Homo sapiens: one gene and its partner. The protein of the gene in region 1 interacts with the protein of each later gene in a pairwise test. Each region holds a gene or a part of one and is shown on either strand. Other genes may lie near its edges.

Region 1 (3,819 bases):
GTATTCAGGGCAAAATCTATGCAGTGTCTTACTAATTTCATACTATGAGGTAAAGACCCGAAACAAAAATAGATTCAGTCTCTCGTATTGCTATAACTCTTAGGCTGGGGTATTAATCAAAATAGGATTTTTACATTTAAGGCGACAGGGAGGCTATGCTGATTCTAACTCAGAAAGAAATGGGAAAACAGTTTTTCTAAGGCTACAACTATTTGTTTAGGCTTATTTTCCCGGACCTATACAAAAATTCAGTCAACAAGTTTTGGGTAAATAAAGGAAATTCATTTTGCTTTCCTCTGCTCTGTCCCTGAAGTCACTCATCCAGGTTGGCTGCTCAAACACCAAGAATCTCCACCATTCTTCACTTGACAGTCTTTGTGGACACGTTAGACCCAAACTTTTTTTTGTATAACACCATCTTAAAATTTTTTAGTATACTTTATCTTTCTTTAGTTTACCCAAAGGAAGGAGTTTTCACTCTAATGTCAATATATTTGCAACCATCCAACTCAAAGACCTCTGTGTCGACTGTTCACTTTGTGGATCATCTCTGGCTCATTTAAAACATCCTGCCTCATCCCCACATTCGCTGACTGGCCTTAGAAAGCAAAGTAAATTTATTGTTAGTCTAAATAAGCATTCTATAGCAAACATAAGTAATTCACACCTGGCCTACTATGAAAATTAAATTTTCTGAATTTAGATCATATTAGCTCTAAAAGCCCCACAGTATGCTAAAAATCGAAAATAAATTCTAAAAAGAGGAAAGCAAGGCTTTTGTCTCCATCATCATTTCTTTATATAGCACTAGAAAATTCTTATTCCCCTTCTAAATTTGCAATTTCATCCAACTGCCCCTAAATTCTAGTTCCAAAAACAAATTAAAGTGCCAGTTATAACACTACCTCCCACTCCCACCTCTCTCAAGAAAGAGGCCTAAAAATAAGAATGATGACATTTACCCTTTTTTGTACTAGAGCTTTACTGAAGGTTGGTATTTTTATGTCAACCTTCCTAGGACTGTCAAGTCTGCCTCCTAAAGAGCGCTGTCAGGATTTCATAGCACAATCTCCTTATTCACTCTCCAAATTATTTACATAGTAAAACTTCTATGGGGTCTCAGCCACCACCAAATTACAAAACTGCCCATTTCTTCTAGAATAATAGTTTTAAAATTTCCTTCCATTTCAGTATATGCATACTCAGTTCATCACATAGTAATATCAATAAAAAAATAAACTTCCATTTCTTATAAGAAAAACATTAACTTAATTCACAGTTAGCCTTTTCCCACAACACTCAATACTCCAGTAGCTTCTAGGAAGAGAGGTATATTAGTGATAAAAATGGAATATTAAAAATCCATGACTTGGGAGTAAACGGAGCCCTTAACTCCTCCTCTCCCCCTACCTGAATCACAAAAGGGTTTTCCTGAAATGAGAGGGGATGGGACTGGGGTCAGCAGGATTCTCACCTCGGTCTAACTACAAGGTACGGGGAGAAGACAGGAGGGCTGGCCATTTGGCAGAATCCAAGCCTACTAGCTTGGGATCTACTAGGGAGATAAAAGCCCATGCCTGGCATATTGGTCCCCATTCTAATTGTCTTGCCCATGTTAGACCTGTCATCACACTAAGGCAAGTCCACTGCCAAGCTGAGCATTATCCTATTTTATTCATCCACCTGCCCCTCCTCCTTTACCTCTGCAAGGTTGACCTATACAGGGTCTGGAGAAAGCATCTCAATCCATTCCCTGGGCTATACAGTTTCGAAGGGAAATAAATGGTCCCTCGGGTTTCTGCCTTTTCTCGGAGGGTTGATGTCCTAAAACTGAAAGCCTAATTCATTACTGTCCTTTACAAAAGCTTCCCTGAAGGCCTCAGTTTAAAGATGAGTGATTTCATCTTTTACTGTGTTTGAAGGGCTTTCAGTGCATCAAGACTGAGAGCAAATTCATCCTCATAGCCACCAGAAGGAAAAACAATGATTTAGCTAAGATTTAATTTATCTTCTAGCTAAAGTGTCATCGGTAGTCACATGATCAACAAATGTTCACATGTGGCATCTGGAAGCATGTGCACCTGTGTGCTATCTTAACTTTCTTGTCTTGACTTTAAAGTGGAACAAAACAAGGTAAGTTATAGATGCAAGTTCCTAAGCTAAATTACTTCTATTGATACATCAATGATTTCAGCTTCCCTCCCCCTAACCAGGTGGAAGCACAGATGCTATAATGGATGATGGATATGGAAGGCAAAAGCCTTCTAATTCATTGCAATCATAATTTACTGAGGACTGTACAGGTCCCAGGTGGGACACTGACACTGGAATGGTCTCTACCAGGCATAGGGAATGGTTCGTGTTTAAAGGCCAAGCAAATTCTAAACACATAATTTGGGCCATACTTTTAGTCTGGTAGGGGATAAGCCCTACCATTTCAAACTCCTTGTGGAGAGTCCTAAGCCAGGGGCCAACTGGACATTTTCCCAAAGGCTGGGCAGTATCATCTGCTGAGCCTACAGAATTGAAAATGCCCTCTTGAACAGGCCTTTGTCATATTTTGCATGGATACCAACGAGCCCCAAACCTGAATTCCACTCCCACCTGGAACTTCTTCTGACTTATTCAGGAACAACAGGGCAGCCCAGCCAGCATCTCAGGTCAGCAATCATTTCCAAACTGGCACATAGTTCATTTCACAGTGTGGCATGAGATCAGGCTGACAGCTTCACAGGAGAACTAGGCCTGCTCAGGCAGGCGAGGGCTGAGGCCCGGCAGGAGATGGTGGCAGAAGGTGTCACACCACAGGTATCCAACCCTCCTCCAGGAGGCCGGTGGTCATCATAATGCCCGCCCCTAAAGAGCTTACAGACCTAGAAGTCTGTGAACGATGTTCAGCACTTTCTTCTGAACAAAAGCAGATGGTTTCTCAGAAAATATTTCAAGACTGGCAGAAAAGCAGGTCCACATGGCTCCTAGCTTCTGCTGCCACTGTGGAATTCCCTAGTAGAGAACTGGTAGCAAAGGATCCTAGGTTGTGCCTGTTAATCTGTCATGTTGGGGAGCAGAATCTGGCATAGAGCAAGGCTTCGAAAGGTGATTTCCGAAGCCACAGGCTCCACTTCATAGCCCAGGCAAGACATACTCTGAGGATGCTCAACAGTGGCAAAGGTAACTGAAGAGATAAAGCACACGCTGTTCAGCCAAGCAGAGGCTCTGCACAAGATTTCTGGTCCTATGAAGAAGCTGGCAAGGTAGGGAAGGACCAATTTATTGGAATCTCTCTTAAAGGGAGAAGTTCTGCATTGGGGTCAGCTGAGCCCAAGGCCCCTATGACCTGAAACATGGCACTGCCTCACTGGCACGTTCTCCTCTGGGGCCACCCATACCCTGGCCCTCTGCATGAGCAGGAGGGTGGACACGTGGAGATGTGAGACAGAAAGCTACCGAGACAAGCACAAAGTTAAGGGAACCCAGAAGCCCTGACTCACCATTCAAAGGAAAAAACAGGAACTTCATTCTCACCCTGCTATGTTTACACCAGCACTTCTGAGCTTGCAGTTAAAACTGCAGTGTTTGCATATAGAAGGCTCAGAGCAGAAATGCCTCAAACAGCTCCTTCCGGCAGATTCCCTAATTCCAGAAAAAGGAGGTCTTCTTGTGTCCTCTAGGAGAATCAGACCTTTCCTTTCACTTCTACTCCTGCCTCTAACCACCTACCCCCAGCTTAAAACACCCTGAACCTCAGGATACCACGAAAAATAACCATTACTTGACAGAAAGGACCCCTCAACCCTTGAGAGGCAAGAAGAGAGGGTT
Region 2 (3,819 bases), on another chromosome or scaffold:
ATCTTTAGCTTCAGACTTCCCTCTGTGAAGTTTGCCTCCTTGATAGAAAATTCCTGCTCTTCCAAACCATCTCCTGCCACCCATTTCTCACTGTCCGCGTTGGAGTTGGAATCCACATCCCGCCCTGAGCCTAGTTCATCCTCCTCCTCTGGCTCCATGCGCTCTCCGCCCACCGGGATCCCCTTCCCAGGTCCTGGAGTGGAGAGCAAAGGTTCTCCTGCACAGCCAGGAGCAGCTGGGGGCTTGGCTGAGGAGACCGGCAGGAAGTCTGACTCGCCCCCTCTTTGCCGGGAGCTGCTTAAGGTTTCCCTGGACTCCATGACAATCTCTACAGTCTTCCGGAGTTCTCAGGAGGGGGAAGGGGAAAAGGGAAAAGGGAAAGGTGAGAAAAGAGGACACCCAAAATTCCAAGAACAAAGTGGTCCAGTTGCTAGGGTCAGATTCCCAGGGATGGAGACACGATGAGGTGTTCAGAAGAGATCAGATCTGCAACTGAGAAGCAAAGAGACAGTTAGGCATGGCAGAAAGGAAAATGACCCCCAAGGTTACTCAATCTAAGTTCCAGAGGCCCCCTTCCACGTATCTATGGCATCCGGAAAAAAGAAATGATGGAAAAACAGCTAACCAGAATAAGCACATCCCCAAATTGGATTTTACTAGAGCAGAGGGAAAAACACATTCACACACGCCTTCATAATGGATTGCTATTAATTTTATAGCTGTAGGCCCAAGAATAAAGATAAGAGGTGCGAGTTCTCCAGCCCGGTAGCAAGCTAGAGGTTTCTTTATACTGAAGCTTCAGCTGGCTGAGTCACTGTTAAAACCAATCATGACGAAAGGGAAGTCTGAAGTGTTGAGGCTCAGGTCTGCTGGAACTGTATTTGGTTGGCTTTTTGCACCGCTTCTCTGTCACATGTGAAGAACAGTTTGCAAAGCTGAGCACAACCCCCAGGCTGCCTGGGCCAAGCTCTCCACCCACTTGGAGGAGGGGCATTCAGCCTATCTCTTAACCATTTTACCTTTATCATTTTTCACTATGCATTATTTCAATTATGCAAAGACCTCTCTATTTCTTCAAGCAAATGCAAAGCTTAGGTTTGAGGCACACAAAAAGAAAATAAAAAGAGTTCAGTGGCAAATCACTTATAACACTGTGATTAATGGAAAACAACTTCAACAAATGTTTCTACTGACACAAAAGAGAGAAATTTAATCATTATCAATTATTTAGATTAAAAATAGCCTTTCTAGACAGTTGTAATTCCCTTTCTGGTTTCTTAAATGAAGTAGTATTGTGTCTCCATAGCAGCAAAAGAGAAAAAGGGAGAGAAGGAGCATTTTATAGGCCTGTGGAAGTGTCAGGAGTCCCCCCAGGATCTTCCTCTCTACCTTCCTCCAAGATGAGAAGAGAAAAATCAGTTAGGCTCTCTCCAAACTGTCACAGGATCAGCTAAACTCTCCTTCACCCTTCTTCACCCCACGTTCTATTATTCCCAATTTCATACTCATAATTTTCAAAGCCCAAAAGGAAGCCCAAACGCTCAGTCTCAGGAGAAAACCAAGAGCCCTGGGGCTGCAAACATCACATCCTCCCACCCTTAGGCTGTACGCTGGATCACACTCAAGCTTTCTCAGCTGCTGAACACTTAAGTTTCCCAGCAGAAGACATGACTGTACATCTTAGGTTTCTACCTCTGAGCCCATCAATTTAAAGTGGCTGGCAAATGTGCCCACCAAAAAATGCCCAACGATGCCTGCAAAGACATATTCAGAATAACCAAGAACTGGAAGCCTGAAGACCAGACGTTTGTCTTCTGTCTCCAGAATCAGCACATTTTTAGCTGACGCCCTGTGAGGAAGCCAGCCAGGAAGGCAGCCCCGGCTCCAACACGGACCCTGCTCCCCAGAGAAGCCCAGGAGCATATTCAGCTACTGGAAAATGCTCAGCTTTGCAGAAAGACACATTTACAACTGCTTCCACTTCGGGGAAGATTCAACGAATACAGCTTTTCTGAAAAAGAAGAAGCTGCCCTAGTGAGAGCATGAGCATCTTCACTGACACTGTTGAGCCAAAACTGAAAACAGCCACCTGTGACCCATGCTACAAGATGGACAAAGTCTCCACTTTGGGAGGTGGGGAGAAGTTAGACCAGATGACACTTGATGTTTCTTTTACTGATAAGATTTTTTGTCTCATCTAGATTTATCTGCCCAATAATACACATTATTTTTAAAAAGTTATACTCAAGTTGACTTTACGGAGGCCTCTCTTACTAGTGTCAGGCACCACCCCAGCTGTTGGAGACATCAATGTACCTTAGGAAATTTCCCCATTTGTCAAGCGGTAAGAATCCAGTAGGTCTTTCTCAGTGTGTATCCCAGATCCATGCAAATTGCAAGCCATGTTTTCTTATGGCAGTAATGTTCACAGTCTATTCCCTTTGGCAGGAATCTCCAACGACATTTTAATTCTCTAATACCTACCTATAAAATCTCCCCAGGTCAGGAGAAAAGACAAAGCATATACATACAAATTTCCTAAATGAAATCCATTTGGACCTTTGAACCAGAGTAGGGAAATGTATGTTACAGATTCTGTGATACAATAAAAGAAGGTGAACTCTAAACTTTAGATGAATTGATGGGCTTATACACTGAATATATTATTAATATTAAGAAAATATCTTCCATTAAAAAAAGATTCACTTCAGAGTGAAATAAATGAAACAATCATTTCTTACATTTTACTACGTGTACAAGACAAAGTTCTGAAACTTAAAATTCAAGTCATAAAAGATCCACACAAAAAAAATTCAATACAAAAAATTTTTTTCTGTTCTCAAATCAAAATACTAAGGAAAACACAATCTTTTTCCTCAAGGAAGTTACACTTTTGATGAGAGATTTGACAAATCACTCTAAAACAACACAGAACTTTATATGTACTGTAAGAAAGGACAGAATCAAAAGGAAGAAAGTTTTCTCCACTTGAGCAAGGTGTAGGTAGCTAGGAAACTACACAGAAAGGCTTTGAGGAGAGCAGAAGACAGATCTTTGATCTTGATGGGGGTTTCCTAGGTAGAGCAGGAAGAAGGAAGACGTAGCAGAGAAAGGGAAGACGTGAGGCCACGTCCTGGGCAGGCGTGTGCAGGATTATGCAGAAGAAACAGGGAATTGATGTTTGGCTAGGAAGTATGGTAGAAACTGGGAATCTATGAGAGGTGAGGCTGGAAATAAAAGGTCATGGCAAAGTCATGAACTTCCTTGAATGTTGTGCTAACGAGTTTGGATTTTATCTTACAGGTAATGGGAAGCCATTTAAGGAATGGCAGTGGAGAAGGAATAATATCAAATCTAAGCTTTAGGAAGATAATTCTGGTACATGGTGTGAGGGTTGGATTAAGGGAATCTGATGTTAGAGGCAGGGGGCCATAAGAAAGTTCAGCTGAAATTTCATTCACATTGCTTGAAGACCCAAACCAGGGCAATGTGAGTATGTCATAATAAATACTGTAGGTAAAACAGTAATGCAGTTTCAAATAGCCTTAATCTTTAGGAATTCATCTATTCCAGACTTTTCATACTGATCTCGCCTTAAAAGACCAAAGCAAATTAGCCACCAACTTGCAGTAACTACTCAAGTCAAACCAGTCTCCACAGCAATGTTATACATAGTTCTTTCTGTATTTTTTAAAATACACAGAATCTGTTCTTATATCCACTTCCTCTCATCCTTGCAATGCCGGCCATGCAATTGGTGTTCCCCAAATGTTTGTTGCACGAAGGAATGAATAAACAAATGAATAAAAAGATCCCAAG

Evidence for each region.
Region 2: the proteins of DENND11 (region 1) and SETBP1 interact in a two-hybrid assay, tested with the Homo sapiens proteins (one large-scale study listed by BioGRID).

Annotation. Positions count from the first base shown.
Region 1 is NC_000007.14:141,656,976-141,660,794, forward strand, and holds part of DENND11 (DENN domain-containing protein 11), read right to left. Parts: 3' UTR 1-3,819.
Region 2 is NC_000018.10:44,697,848-44,701,666, reverse strand, and holds part of SETBP1 (SET-binding protein), read right to left. Parts: intron 793-3,819; exon of another isoform or gene 626-792; intron 493-625; 5' UTR 321-492; coding exon 1-320.